Linked DNA regions of Homo sapiens: region 2 is linked to region 1. The links come from fine-mapping of genetic effects on gene expression. Tissue or cell type: B cells. Region 1 holds a variant in brackets; the other region holds the start of a gene. All regions are shown on one strand. Distances are between the middles of the regions.

Region 1 (8,108 bases):
CCCTTACTCTAATGTTGCTATATTAATATGTGTTTTGAAGGGATGATAATTTCTTAATTCAGTATGAAAAAATTACCAGTGTGAAGAATGTAAAGGAAGGCATCTTTCCTTCCAAACGCAAATAGGCTCATGCCACAGAAATGAAATCCAAAAAGAAAGTAAAGAAAACATATCCCTCCCTTATCCCAAAATTAGTGTTTAACCATGCTGCTTAAATGGAACACATTTTGTCTGAAGGATGAGAAGCAAATGTTGTTTCACAGCTTTTAATTCTTTAGCGAAGTCTCAAAAGTATCATAGTATAAACATGTCAGGACCATGGTTGAGAAAAGTAACCAGTTGCAGTTAAAACAACAACAACAACAACAAAAAATTTTGGAAAAAAAGGAATGGCAAACTCTAGAAGATCTCTCCCAGAGGCTAATAGAGCAATGATCCCTAAGTACTCATTACTATGAAATACAGAGTTCTACAAGATTAAGAAATAAAAAAGACATTAGATTTTTGCCCTAAATGACAGGTAATAAATCTAAACTTAGGAACATTTCCTCACAGTTCAAAAAGTTCTGCCCACCTTGATTAACTTGTTTTCTGAATACCTTTAGTTGCTGGCTTAGTGGAGAAGGCCATTGGTTTGATATGCAAAAAAAAAAAAAAAGATTTTTTTCTGATTGTGCTATTTCATTCATGTGGCTTGGCTTAAAAGAAGATGTTTCACTTTAGTAGGAAGACCAATTCAAACATCATTTACAACTGACGTTTATTCAGTATGAGTCATGAACTGAAACTTGGTGTGGGATCTGGTGGAATTATGGGCTAGCTTAAAGGGTAATGTGGCAAATCATTGGCCTAATTCTGTGGGAATCACCAGTGTCCTCCCAAGGCATATATTCATGAATGAAAGAAGATAAGAACCCAGTCCTTTGCTAAATCTGGCGTCTCTGGCCAAATCTAAACGGCTTAAATAATCCTCATCCAAATATCTTATTTTGGCCAATCGTTTCTACCTTCCTTATAAACTCTAAATCAGAACTTGACACATTGTCAAATCAACCCATTTAACTTTCATTTTTAGTTTTCTTGCCACTTTACTCAGGGAGAGATAAAAACGTGAAATGATTAAAAGACCGAGAAAAAGAAAGGCCAGGAAGAACCCATGGCCTAATCTAAGTAATCCATCAAAAAAGATAATTGGCCCTGTAAATTCAAAAAATATTAATATAATTCAACAGATTTAATAAAAGCACACAAAGGGAGAAAAAGCCTTCTATGGGCAAAGAAGCACAAAATCCTTTGAGGATGTAGTCTATACAAAGCCATAAGAAAATATCATTATCAGCAAACTATTATTTCATAGATTTTCCCAAGCCTGACTCCATGACATGAGTATCATGCATTTTCACTGGAAACTGAAAAAAGTTTTGCCATATATTTAATAACTTTATTGAATGAAGAAAAAGATCACACCAAAAATGGAGGAATACATCAACCCTGGTGGTCTTAGTAGACCGAGCCAAATTAAACTATATGATAAAGCAATTTCTCTTTTTTCATCCACCACTAAATGAGAGTTCATTTTTATCTAAAGAAGGCTCATCTTAGCAAATATTGCCATGACAATAAGACTGTTAGGCAAACCAATAAATTTAGGTTCTGGCCTGGGTTAAGATGACTGTATTTAGTGTCCTTTCTCAAGTTCTACTTGAAGGAATTTCTGTTTAATCAAAAAAAGCTCCCCCAACCACTACCACCCCACCTTGGCACTTAAATGTTTATTTGACTAATATTTATTGCACCTACAATATTGTCAGGGATTGTTTTCAAACTTCAGATATATTAGTAGACAAGTATCCATAAGGCCTAATCTGGAATTCATACAACTAAGAAAAAAAGAAACAAAGTCCCACATTCTCATGTGTTCCTGCTGATGGGCTGTGGATGGGTAAGTTATGGAAAGGCTGGGAGGAGCAACAAGGAAGATAGAGGCCAAGACCAGAGCTTTTTAATCCCCTTCTGAGTCTGGCCAAGGGTATATAGAGAAGGCTAAACCCTAGGGAATAATACAAGTGTGACCCTAAAAGGTATTATTTTGCAACTAAATCAGTCCAATCTAACACAGCCATTTCCTCTAAGTTCACAAAGCAACTTTATTTTCAACACACTTGCAACTGTGAGACAAAGTTGGGTCATCATGTGCTGGGGACACTGGATTTTTGCCCTAAATGACAGGTAATAAATCTAAACTTAGGAACATTTTCTTACAGTTTAAAAAAAATTCTTCTGCCCTCCTTGATTAACTTGTTTTCTGAATACATTTAGTTGCTGGCTTAGTGGAGAGGATGGGGAGGGAAAGGCAACAATTATTATAAATTATTTTGGTTTTTATTAAAATGACTTTTCTTTCCTGCAGAGACAGATTCTAAAAGAAAAACAAGTCAAACTTCTGGGATGCCTTTCTCTTTCCCACAGGATCAGGAAAAACACAGTGAGGCCAACCAAAAGTATCAGCCCCTTAAAAAATATGCATAATCTCATGTGCAAGACACTGGTCAATCTAGAACCTGCTAGAGAAATGCCAGAAATGCTTTATCCACATCATGTCTCTACATGACTAATTTCTTTACAATTAAATAGCTTTCAAACATCAACATATCAGAACTGAGATTGTCACCATCTACAGCAACAGTGGAATTACACATCATATCCTTATTCCATTACTCATCCCTCAGTTATGCTAAGCAGCAAGCTACAGAAACATCTGACAGCATCAACAGCATACAGGTTTAATTATTTTCCCAATTTGCATTTATATCAGTGAACAAATTGGAAGCTATCAAAGTATGGCACTGAAGAAAAAGAAACACATATTCAGCAGCACATCTCCCATTTTGAGTCCTGTTTTTAAATTGGCTAAGTAAAGGCATATACACCTCCATTTGAATTGGAGATTTGCAGTAACACAGGCATATAAGGATGGGAGGGAAGGAGGGAGGGAGGGAGGGAAGAAGAAAAGGAGAGACCAGAAAAATAGAGAGGAAAAGAGAAAGAAAAAAGAAAGAACATATGGTTAAGCGTCTGAAGGTAACATTATTACAAGAAGGAGGGGATAAATGACAGTTCAATCTGCTTCCACGAGCAGAATTTTTCTAAGGTTATCATCGAAGATATAAAAATGGGTCGTGAGACTTTTCATCTGTTGCTATTCTCACTTATCATACTAAAAAATCTACAAAATCCTAAGCCTTGGTCTGTCCAAGATGGAGAGTACCAGGAAGTAAAAGATGTGACCTACTATCAAGGACTGTGCTCTGCTAGGAGCCCTGCACTACAGTCCATTAATCCACAGTATTTTGGTCATATCTGGTCTGTTTCCTCATACTACTCAAAATGTGTTAGAGCTAAGTTTTTATATTAGAATGTCATCAACCATTTGTTTATTTTTTTCATTTTGCAAACGTTTTCATTTACATAAAGGGCTGGAGAGACAAGAAAGTGGTAGAGATTCAGAGGGGAACATAAAAGGAAAAGTATTCTCTTTTCCCAAAAATCCACCTTTAAAAAGGTAGTAATGAGACTTTGAGAAAGAGTGCTGATTCATGGACTTCCCCCATTTTTTTATTTCTATATAACA[C/A]ATTTAAGGACATTAATGTACTAAAACGTTTGGTCTGTGAAATAGCGGAATCATTAGCACCAAAAGGAGTTATGGAGCTTGTATATATTATTAAAACAATGATTGTTACTGTTGGTCATGGGTAAAGGTTTCATTTCATTTTTACATCCCAAAGTTCTTGAAAGTGCCTGTGGACAAGAGAAATAACACTTTTCAAAATCTCCATGGGGTCGTCAATACGCACCACAGAGACTGTACTTGGCCTTCCCAGTTTTGGTTTATCTGGTAGACAAGAAAACCAGGGCCCCCAGATGATTACCACCGAAGCCCTAAAGAAGAGTTCCCACATGCACCCACTGATGTGCAGGAGGGATCCCTACAGTACATTTCCCCCCGGACTCTGTTTAGGAATGCGCTTTTACTTGCTTTTTAAAAAAACAAAAGCAACATGCTCTGCAGATCATGGAGTGCCTAGTGCAATTTTCTCCTTGCTCCAACTCCAGACTGGAAAAGGGTGAAACCATTATATGTTCTGCTAATGCTGGCCTGTGGTCGAGGCCCTTGGCCTGCCATGCTTTGTAAGCTCAGGAGCCCACAGGAGTCAGAAGGTCAGAGAGCGGGAGCCACAGTCATCGCCAGATCTCCCCAGCATCTCATGGCCCATCAGGGCAGTTGCTGATTCCTTTTCTTCTCCGTGCCTCAGCCTTTAGTTGAAATTACAACAAGTCAAATAGCTGATGCTTTTCCCTTCTCCAGGTAAGGGTGAGGATACATTGTTCACAAGTGTGTTCTGTCTGGCTTCACTGATGAGTCGGCATGCTAAGTCAAGGAAGAGTTTCTCCACATTATCAGATTCCTTGGCTGAGGTCTCCAGATAATACATGTCCTGAGCTTCTGAGAATTCTTCAGCTCGCTGCTGGGAAACCTCTCTCCTTTCAGCCAGGTCAATCTTGTTGCCTATAACAGTAGTAAAATCAAATAAAGAATCAGCATTTGACTTTTTGCAGGCTGAGAAGCATCAAAATTCAACTCCATATCTGAAGTCAAGCCAGACAGATGGGCGAGTAAAACAAAACAAATGTGACTGTGATTACTGAAATGTTTACTTTAAAATATGAGTGCCAGCTGGGCGCAGTGGCTCACACCTGTAATCCCAGCACTTTAGGAGGCCAAGGCGGGTGGATCACCAGGTCAGGAGTTCGAGACTAGCCTGGCCAATATGGTGAAACCCCGTCTCTACTAAAAATACAAAAATTAGCCAGGTGTGGTGGCACGCACCTGTAGTCCCAGCTACTTGGGAGGCTGAGGCAGAAGAATCGCTTGAACCCCAGAGGCAGAGGTTGCAGTGAGTCGAGATCATGCCACTGCACTCTAGCTTGGGTGACAGAGTGAGACTCTGTCTCAAAAAAAATAAATAAATAAAAAATGAGTGCCATTCATAATGGCAAGAACTGGAGACAACCCAAATGTCCATCGGTAGGGCACTGACTGAATAAAGTATGGCACATCCACCCAATGGAGTATTTGCTGCCATAAAAATCAATTAGGAGTATTTCTATATACTGCCATGTAATGGAAACACTGGGATATACTGTTAACCAAAAAAAAAGCGAAGCAGAAAAAAAAAGCATATACAATACGCAACTGTCTATCCAAGAAAAAGGGAAGGATATGAATACATATATTATACACACATTTTATTTATTTTTTTAATAGAAGACTAGACCAAAATCTTAATTTAAAAGAAAATGGTTACCTATGAAAGGAACAGGGTTGAGGTGAAAGGAATAGAAACCAGACCTCTCTGAATATACTTTGTTTTGTAGATTTTACTTTAGGAACTTAAAAATGCTTTATATAATTATACAATTAATTTCAAAATTAAATTTAAAAAGCAATCCCTAAAAACTGAGAGCAAAATTAAACAAATGAACATGTTCATCATGTGTGGAATAACCACACAGACCGTAACCCTTTTTTTCTTTTAACTGAGACAAGGTCTGGCTCTATTGCCCAGGCTGGAGGGCAGTGGCGCGATCCTGACTTGCTGCAACTCCACCTCCTGGGCTCAAGCCATCTTCTCCCACCTCAGCCTCCCAAGTAGCTGGGACTACAGGCAGGCACTACCATGCCCAGCTAATTTTTTTTTTTTATTTTTTGCAGAGACAGAGTTTCGCCACGTCCAGGCTGGTCTTGAACTTGTGAGCTTAAGCGATCCACCTGCCTCGGCCTCCAGAAGTGCTGGGATTACACGCAATTGAGCCACCGAGCCGGGCCAACAGAGTAACTATTTCAAGGTGCTTAAGATACAGTAATTTAACAGTGCAACCCCAGTGGTATATAGCCTAAGGACAAAAAGAATTGAAGGAAACAATCTTGAACTGTTTCAGTAATCATCTTTTTGGTGGTACTGTTGGTATTATTATTCTGAGGTTGCTATCTGTGTATTATGGGATAAAGCAAATGAGTAATTATGCTGGTACCATTGGGAACTGGGACTTTTGGCATAGGAAAAAGGAAATATAAATATAAAATTAATGTGGTTAAGTAAAATTTCTGCAGTCCTGAATTATAAATAGAAGTATCAGTATGAATAATTCATGATGTATTTTATCTTTAAAAAGTTTTCCACCTACCTCAAATTCTCCAGGAAACCTGACAAAGGTGTGTCAATTGTATTATCTGGCAACACCGCTTATGGTAAAAATGACCCCTGATTGATAAATGACTTCTGGCCTGGGAATTCTATCTAAGAATTATAAATACCTAATGGAAAGCCATAACTTTGAGCTTCCCTGAATGTGGTGACTTCATTTGAAGAGACCCTGGAAGTTATGATTGTGGAGTTGTTATAATAGATTTAGTCTCCTATGGGGTATTGAGGCTGCTAGGCCAAGGCAGATCCTCCATCTGTTTGACATGAGCCTTGTTCCCTCATACTAGAATCGTCTGGGGGTTGCGGACTGGGTAGGAGGTCCTGGAAAATTACGTGGACTGCTACTGGGATTACTTCCACTGAAGAGGGTTGCCGGATGCTGATCTGCTGTCAAGCTGTATTTCCTGTCCTGTGTCCTTCTAAGTGAACACGATGCCACGCGTGGTCTACGGTAGTCTTGTGAGTCGGAACGCTAGCAGAACCTAATAGGAAAACTCTCTTGAGGATACTACAGAATCCACCACACACATGCACACATACACACAAGCTCTGTCCACTGAAAGGCCTAAAAACAATGGCCCATCAGGAGGGCTCCTAACACCTCGGTTGTGGCCTCTAAATACGACTTCCCATTGAAAAGAAAGCACTTCTTGAAGAAATGGCTAATTCCAGGTCTGGGGCAGGAAATGCACAAGTTGTGGCTGGAACACTTGTCATACCAGAAAGCAAAAAAATTATCCAACATTCCTGGGGTCATGTCAAAAGGACTCAGGAGCCCATTTGAAGAAGCTCCCACTGGCAAAGTCGGAACAATGGGAGCATCAATAATAATAATTGCAAGGGACTGAAATACATCAAATTTACTTATTTAGTTAGTTTTTGAGACAGAGTCTCGCTCTGTTGCCCAGGCTGGAGTGCAGTGGTGCAATCTCGGCTCACTGTATCCTGTGTCTCCCAGGTTCAAGAGATTCTCCTGCCTTGGCCTCCCGCTGGGATTACAGGCATGCTTGGCTAATTTTTTGTATATTTTAGTAGAGATGGGGTTTCACCATGTTGCCCAGGCTGGTCTCAAACTCCCGACCTCAAGTGATCCACCCGCCTCAGCCTCCCAAAGTGTTGGGATTACAGGCATGAGTCACCATGCCCAGCCCATCAAATCTATTTAAATCTATAAATTTATAATAATATTACAAATATAAACAGATGTCAATAGTTAACTTTTAGAAGATACTGGAGAACCAGCTTATTACCTTGAAAAGTGGTGAACAAAAAAGAATCAAGCATTCTTCCTGCCTGTTCTATGAGAACTACCCCTCAGAGTATGATATATGTAGTGTTTTGTCTAAAAAGAAAACCAAAAAAATCCTGACTCTCATCAGGCCTCTAGACTTATCTATAAATCTGCAAGAAATATAGGTGATGGAGGTGATATCAAATGACACCTTGGGGCGATAAAACAAAATTTAGACTTGTAAAGCCTATAGGTCAAACAAATGCATTAGCAAAAAATTCTAAGAGAGAAAAAAAATGAGAGTGGAAACTTCATAAAAAAGGATGAAAAGATGTAGCTGTCAATTACAACATATGGACCTTACTTGGCTTTTTTTTTTTTTTTTTTTAAAGAGTCTGGCTCTGTCACCCAGGCTGAATGCAGTGGTGTGATCATAGCTCCCTGCAGCCTTCAACTTCTGGGCTCAGGTGATCCTCCTGCTTCAGCTTCCTGAGTAGCTGGGACCACAGGTAGATGCCATCATGCCTGGCTAATCTCGCTACATTGCCCAGGCTGGTCAGAACTGCTGGGCTCAAGCAATCCTCCTGCCTCAGCTTCCCAGAACACTGAGA
Region 2 (8,108 bases), 89 kb after region 1:
AATAGTCCTCTTCCAATGTGTTGATATTTCCTGCTTTTGAATAGGCCCTTAGTGACTTAGGTTAATTCACTCACTCTACCAACATTTAGAGTCCCTAATTTGTGTGAGGCATTCTGTTGGGTGCCTGGAAACACAGTCTGGAGCGCTTTTGCTTGCCTTCATGTCTAGGATCAAAGGTGTGGATGCCTCCCGCACCCATCACCCCTACCCCCTAGCCTAGTATTGCCAAAGTACCTCTTTGTACGTGATTATTTACGTTTGTCTCCCTCACCTGAGTGAATTCCTCCGAAGTAAACAGTATCTTATTCAATGTTGTTTTCCTAGCATGGTGCATGGAAAACTGTTATAACAAATAAGTAAACTGAGTATACTGTTGTTTTCCATGCTGGGGTAAGTATAAACTATTGGAATAAATACATTGTACAGATGAGGAAACTAAAGCTCAGAAAAAAAAATGTGATATGTCCAACATCATACAGCTAATAAATAAGCAGTGTCCAGTGTGAGAAAGCCTCGTCCAGAGCTCTCTTCTACTCCATCATGCCACATCCTACACATGGACAGCAAGAGTGAAAGATCTTAGATGTCTTCCAGGAACCTCAAACTCAGCATGTCCAAAGGTCCTCCCTTCGGAAAACAAAAAGACCTGGTTCCCATTCAGTGTTCTCTTTCTCTGAAAACGTCATCCCCAGTTGCTCAAGAAAAAAACTCAAGTCATTTCATGACTCCCTTTTCTCCCTATCCCCCCATCCAATCAATCAACAAATCTTATCAATTACAATTTTCAAAGTTAGTGTCGGCCGGGCATGGTGGCTCATGCTTGTAATCCCAGAACTTTGGGAGGCAGAGGCAGGTGGATCACCTGAGGTCAGGAGTTCGAGACCAGCCTGGCCAACATGGTGAAACCCCATCTCTACTAAAAATACAAAAGTTGCCAGGTGCGGTGGCTCACGCCTGTAGTCCCAGCACTTTGGGAGGCTGAGGCGGGTGGACCATTTGAGGTCAGGAGTTTGAGAGATCAGCCTGGCCAGCATGGTGAGACCCTATCTCTACTAAATATATAAAAATTAGCTGGGAGTGGTGGGTGCCTGTAATCTCAACTACTTGGGAGGCTGAGGCAGGAGAATCGCTTGAATCCAGAGATGGAGGCTGCAGTGAGCTGTGATCATGCCACTGCACTTCAGCCTGGGCGACAGAGTGAGACTCTGTCTCAAAAAAAAAAAAAAAAATACAAACGTTAGCTGAGCATGGTGGCGGGCACCTGTAATCCCAGACAATAGGGAGGCTGAGGCAGGAGAACTGCTTGAACCTGGGAGGCGGAGGTTGCAATGAGCCGAGATTGCGCCATTGTACTCCAGCAAGGGCAACAAGAGCAAAACTCTGTCTCAAAAAAAAAAAACAAAAAACTTAGTGTCTCTCTAAACCCTCTGTCACCACCCTAGATCTAAGCACCATCATCCCTCATACAGACGACAAAAATTATTTGCTACTTGGTCTCTACACATTCACTCTGACCAAGTCTTTCCTTCAATCTCCTCTACTTAACAGCCAGGATAATATTTTAATATCATCCTACATATGCCATTCATCTAGTTTTTTAAAGCCAGGCTAGGTTCTCATTAGCCTTAGGATAAAGACCAAAATACACCTGTAGCTCAAAGAACTGCCTACTCTCTAGCCTCTGCCCACCTCTCCAGCCTCATTCTTCATTCTAGTCTTTCTCCTCTTGCTCTGTCTCTAACTTCCTTTCAAATCCTCAGGTTCACCACTCTTCCCTTTGAACTTTGAACATGAAGTTCCCTCTGCCAGAAACCTTTGTCCCACTATAAGCATCTCCCACTGCCATCCTGAATTACTACTTCCGTTTACCCTCCAAGTCTCTTGAAGTGTCACTTCCTATAGGAAACCTTTCCTGATAACCCTAGACAAGGGGAAAGTACCATGTCAGGCACTCCTACCCAACCCTTTTGGAAATGGCATTCATCACACTTGCAATTATTTATTAAGTATATCCCCTATTAGAATATAAGCTCCATGAAGTCAGGGAAAGCATTTGTTTTCACTGATGTATCCACAGTGCTTAGTACATGGTAGCTGCTCAATCAATATAAATTGTCAGAATTATAGGTTGGGGCCAGATTATAGAGGGCTATAACATCAGTAAACCAAAGAGCAAGGATCATTATCCCTTTGCAAATAAGTAAACCGAAGCAGAAAGAAATGAATAGTTATTTAAGGTCCCAGAGACAGCAGTGATGAGGCCAAATCTAACACTACATTCAGCCCATTTCTCCTCCCTAGGACAATAAAAGAAACTTTGGTGGGTAAGGAAGTATTTCAGAAGAAGAAAATTAGGAATGAGAAGATGGTGCATAAAAGGTCTAAGAGGACAGCTTCTGAATCTGCCTGTTACACTAGTTGCCTCCAGATGGATAGCAGTTAGACTTTCCACACCTAGAGGAGCACTGCTGTTACATAAACAAATATAGCCACTATCACACTCTTCCCGTTAAGAGAAGAGAATAAAATAACAAACTTCTTTCCTGCACAGAGGAGAAGAAACAACCAGGGTGGGTGGGGAACTGTTGTCCTCCAAGTATCTTCAAAAAACCAAATGGGCAGTTTGGCCACCTGGATTGCTACTCAGCAATCCACAGGGAACAGGAAGAAAGAGGGGGGAAAGATCAGCCTTCCCACCACCAGCTGCAGCAAGGATAAGGAAAAAAAAAATGTATTGTATAAGGCAAGCCACTTGAAGACTACTTATTCCTTGGGAATTATGAGAACATTTCATGTAGAGCATTTAAAAACCTTGCTAATCCATAGGCAGGTGCCAGTGAAAGGAAAAGTGGCATGAGCCCAACTGCAGCATTTCATTGTTCACATGCTGCTGGGGCTAAATTATGTCTGTCACAGGAACTACAAACCAGACCAGGGGTCAGGCTCATTGCTGCTCATCCTGCCAAGCACAGACTGCAAGAAAAAGAAAAGGCAAAGAAATTCTCTTCAAAGAGGATTCTGCAAAAATATTCACATAGTCTACATCCACCCAGGAGTTCCTAGTTGAAGTGGAGGACCAGGGAGTGTGTTCTAAGATTGAAGAGAAAGAGATGTGATATGCTGGTGATAAAGGAGGGGTTTTGAAACAGAAAGGAAAAATGTAAACTGCAAATGGAGAGATAGAGAAATAAACAGAATTTCAAGAGATGTGGGTGGGATGGGGTGGGGTGGGGGGAAGAAATGAAAGTACAGGAGAGAAGGGTAGGGTGTCCAGAAGAGCAGAGCGTCATCAACAGAGAGACGCAGAGGCAAAGGCTAACTGTTGATCTTTTCCCAAATCCAAAAGCTGCTCATTGGCATCCCAATAAATCACTCTACTACAAAGCCCATACAATGGACTGTCCTTTGCATTCAGCATCAAGCAGCATTTAATGAAATATCACACAGCTACAACTTTGGAGACCTAAGGATCTGAATTTAAAATGAACAAAATTGGCTTAGCAGCAGAAGACAGCCAGTAAAGAATTTCGCCCATGTCTGACTCAGCTAGGAAAAGGTTTAGCATTCTAGAGTTAAGCAAATACTCTGGCATTTCTCCTTCTTTTGACATTCCAAGAGGGGGTGTGGTTGACCCCAGGCCCATTCATTTCCAAGGGTGTAGATCTCTCAGCCAAGACTGGCCCCATCTGTTGTGGAGCCAGCCAGCTGTTTATCTCAAAGTAACATATCTATTGCCCTAATTATCCCTATAACTCTTACAAGAGCATCATGTAAGTCAGAATGCTTTCTCTCCTGTTAAATGTCAGTTCGTTTAAAAAAACAACAATAACAAAACAACCAAAATCACTCTTCCATGGGCACCTTTCAGTAATGGCAAATGAAGGTTAACAGCGCTTCTAACTTTCCCTTTCTCTAATGTGTTAAAATGAACCCCTCTTCCCTAATCGATCTCTTCAAACCGTTATTTGTGAGTAGTGACTATGCCTCAGGAAACAGCAGCTCATTATGGTACCATTGTCAGTGGCAAAGAGCCTATGCAATGTAATTTAAAACACACAAGCACAAATCTGTCGGCTCCACTTCCAAACAATCTTGAATCCAGCAGTCGGAGAACGGAAAACATTTAACAAAAACGCTGCTTCCAGCAGCCTGAAAGAACCTTCGCCAGACACGTGAAATGTTTCTGACTGGCACGGAGTGCACCATTAAAGGACACTGTCACCTCAAATCAGCAGAAAAGGCGAGACAAACCACATAGACATACACACATAAAATAAAGCCCTACAAAACTTAAGCACGTTCATCTTAAAAATTAATAACTAGTGCTCGTCCAAGCGACATTCAAATGTTCTAAAGTAGTGCGACCACATTAATTCACTGTCTCCATTTCTCCCCACGCATCACCCCTTCCCACTCAAACCTCAGCTCTCGGGCCGTGTGTGACAGGACTGCAGTCCCCCACCTCTGCCTTCCTCAGATTTTCCAAGAGCACTCCCCAACATCCTTCCCAGCCCAGCCCCCTCTCTCCGCCTCAAAAAGGTTGAGAGGAGTTGCGACTAGGGAATTGGCAGGCACCCGTCCTCTGGCGGGGGAAGGTTGCTGGAGTTGTTCTTTGCAGTGACCCAAATGGCACAGAGCTTTTCCCCTTAGCTGTGCCTGCAAGCCTCTCCCCAATCCCCCCCACCTCCCCACCGCTCACAGCTTCCCAAAAGAAAGCCTTGAGAACTAAGCGGGAGGAATAACTTGGTAGAAGCATTTGAATAAATCACTTCAACTCACCTGGTTTGGGATTTTTCTCCCCACCCCAGGCATAAACAGAAATGGATGTGCGAATGAGTCACGCACGCAAGGGAAGGTCTGCGATGTCCTGAGTCCAAGGGCTGGAGTCAGTCCCTGCCCTGGTGCTGCTGCTACACTTAGCTCAGCTGGAGCGAGCGGCAATCGCAAGCCCAGCAGCAGCAGGGGGTGGAGAGACCGTAGCACAATGAATGCAGTGGGGCTTTTGCAATGACATCATCCCTCTGTCCAAACGTCCCCAATAGCCATGCTCGGGAGCGGTGCTTTCTGGGAACTGTAGTCTTCTTACGTCCTGAAGGGATACCCAGGCAATCCCCGAAACTACAATGCCCAAAATGCTCCAAGTGGGACGCGCCCAGAGTGAAGGAGCAAAGGGGACTCGGCCGCCATGTTAGGAGTACTGGGACGATTCCGCGGAGCCGGGCAGAGGTTTTAGGGGTGCGCAGGAGTCAAGTGGTGGTTCAGTGGGGACGGTGAGGTGGAGGACGATCTGGTCGGATAGCCGCGGGCACGAACCTGGGAACCAGAGGGTGGAGGCCATGCTGGGGACTGATGTAGGGCGGGACCGACTGGAAGCGGCATCCAGAGGCCCAGTGAGCCTCGGTCTCAGCTCCTGAAGGGGTTGCATGGGGCCCTACGCTTCCTTCTCCATTTTTTAGCTAAGAGATTGAGAGAGTCGGTTTACTTTTGGGCTTGGAGTATCATTTAGATCTGTTAACAGTACAGTTGAGAGAGTTGGTGTCTTTTGTTGAGGTGCGAGGACCCGAGGCGGCGACCCTCGCCTTTATTCGGAGAAGCCCACTTCCACCCACAGAGTTGGGGTAGTCCTCCGAAATGCATTTTTGTTTTGCCGTTTGTTTTCCAACCCCCTTTCACTCTCCCCAAAGCTTCAGATTCACTGATTTTTCATACAGGAATGATTAACAAAGGCGTCCGAAGAAATCGTTGTTGGAAGGTGACCAAGGTGGAAAGAGACGTTGCTTTGGCCCTGCAAGTAAGAAGAGAGAGGGAATAGCCTGAAGGAGTAACACTAAATTTAAAATGACACTTTTTTACCAACCAGCGAAAGCAGATGTTCAAAGGGGATATTGGCCAGGTGCGGTCGCTCACGCCTTTAATCCCAGCACTTTGGGGGCAGACGCGGGGAGATAGCGTGATTCTAGGAGTTCAACCCCAGCCTGGGCAACATGCGGAGACCCCGTACCGTCTCTACAAAAACATTAAACAAAAAAATTAGCTGGGCATGGTGGTGTACCCCTGTAGTTGCAGCTACACTAGAGGCTGAGGTGGGAGGATCGCTTGAGCCCGGGATGTTGAGGCTGCAGTGAGCCTCGATCCTACCACTGTGCTCCAGCCTGGGCGACAGCAAGCCCGTGTCTCAGAAAAGGCGGGAGGGGTGGGATATTATTGATGATAGGCCTTCTGACGTCTGGCAATAGATTCCAGAGTAACATCGGTCATGGATAAATTTTTTTTTTAACTAAGTGACTGAAACCAAAGTTAATTGTCTTTTGAGTGATTTTGCACAGTATCTCAAAATGAACTGTACTTTTTTTCTTGTGTCACTGAAACAGTGCTGTGTGTTCTTTTTCAGAGTCTGTCACACTAAGATGAGAAATGTCCTTTCTTCCTGAAGGTGTCTGATGTGTAAAAATATGATATACTTTGTGCTGTTTCCTCCCTTCCCTTTTGCATATTATTCTGAAACAACATTAACTAGTTACTTTGCGTCATTGAAGGTATGCACTTCCCCTCTATGTTAGGAGTGAATAAAATTAAAAATAGATCCTTATAACAAAGAAAGGCAGATAGAATGATTAAAAATGACCAAAACATGTTAGAAACAGTCTCTCAGGTGTATGCAGATGGTAATTACAAAAATACTTTTTCAAAAAATGATCTTCTGTGTCATGTTTCTGGGAACAAGTCAAGATGAATGAGTTTGATTTTTAAGCAGAAGTAGTATGTGTTGGTGTCATCCATGAATACAACAATGAAAAAGGCTCAAAGTTGTTGTTATTCAGAAACTTCTCTAAGTAATGGTGGTAAGTACAGGAAAAGGAGCAATGTCTACCATTTTCTTTCTAACCTTCGATTTAACTATTGTAATGTTGTAAGCTTAACAGAGACTTACACTTAGGCTTAATTTCAAGCTCTTCAATCATTTTTCCCGGTTGGTGATTCAGGTGTATTCTCATGTCTTATGTAAACTTATCATGAGTGTTGTTGATTTATAATATATTTCTTTATGTAAGCCATAGCCTTGTCAGTTTGAGTTATATGGAAGACAAATTGTAGGGAAAAAGAGCAACAGATTACTCAGAAACCTTCTGTGTGAGCTGGGCATAGTAGTGCATGCCAGTAGGCTTAGCTACTTGGGAGGCTGAGGCAGGAGGATCACTTGATCCCATTAGTTTGAGGCTGCAGTGAGCTATGATTGTGTCACTGTACTCCAATCTGGACAACAGTGAGACTATGTCTGTTTTTAAAAAAGAAAGAAAGCTTGTGTTTGAGAAGTGATACCTCTAGAATACAGTGATTTCTATAATTTGTCATGTGTTTGGGTAGTTTGAAGTTTTTCTATCCTTGTATCTAATGGACATCTGACCATAAAGATGAAAAAATCCTGCACTCATTATAAATTTTATTTATAAAATTGATATTTGAGGAGTTGGGGAGGCCAGCTTCTGAAAAAATAACAGTGTCCCATAGAAACACCACAACTTAGGAAAATATTGTTAAAGTGGAATTAGGAATATCTAGAGGAGGTAAAGCTTTTCATCTCTCAAAAAAGAATTAGGGCCAGGCACAGTGGCTGACACCTGTAATCCTAGCACTTTGGGAGGCCGAGATGGGCACATCACTTGGGGCCAGGAGTTCAAGACCAGCCTGGCCAACATGGCGAAACCCCATCTCCAAGAAATAGAAAAGTTAGCCAGGTGTGGTGGCGTGCGCCTGTAATACCAGCTACTAGGGTGGCTGAGGCAGGAGAATCGCTTGAACTGGGGAGGTGGAGGTGGCAGTGAGCAGAGATTGAGCCACTGTACTCCAGCCTGGGCAACAGCAAGACCCTATCTCAAAAAAATAATAAAGAGAATTAGGACATGGATTTGTATTAAAATTATAGGTAGCTCATTTAAGAGTATGAAGCCAATTGCTGTTAGAGCAAGGGTTTTTTTCAGTAGAGGTGTCAGGATAACCTATACAGCTCTAAAAGTATATGGCTGTTACCTTCCCATCCCTGTTGAAATCTCCAGGGTTAGAACCAAGTATTGTGTTTTTAAAACTATAGGTGAGTCTACAAGAGTTGG

What was found. PIP is the estimated chance that this variant, and not a neighbour inherited with it, causes the effect.
Region 2: it holds the start of RAB30, and the variant in region 1 is fine-mapped to the expression of RAB30 in B cells (Fairfax 2012, PIP 0.95). The same link has a PIP of 0.9 or more in whole blood.

Annotation. Positions count from the first base shown.
Region 1 is chr11:82,977,849-82,985,956 of GRCh38, forward strand. RAB30 (RAB30, member RAS oncogene family) reads right to left here. Exons shown (of 5, transcript NM_001286060.2): 5 at 1-4,567. The coding sequence ends at 4,317. Among named protein-coding and RNA genes, the nearest start is that of SNORA70E, 60 kb to the right of the region's middle. The variant C/A (reference allele first, on the strand shown) is at 3,632.
Region 2 is chr11:83,066,912-83,075,019 of GRCh38, forward strand. It overlaps RAB30 (RAB30, member RAS oncogene family), which reads right to left and starts at 4,986. Exons shown (of 5, transcript NM_001286060.2): 1 at 4,780-4,986. It overlaps RAB30-DT (RAB30 divergent transcript), which reads left to right and starts at 5,155. Exons shown (of 3, transcript NR_038903.1): 1 at 5,155-5,235; 2 at 5,712-5,893; 3 at 6,392-6,801. It overlaps LINC02951 (long intergenic non-protein coding RNA 2951), which reads right to left. Exons shown (of 3, transcript NR_186233.1): 3 at 5,491-5,785. RefSeq lists enhancers at 2,876-2,925, 2,946-3,175, 4,939-5,428.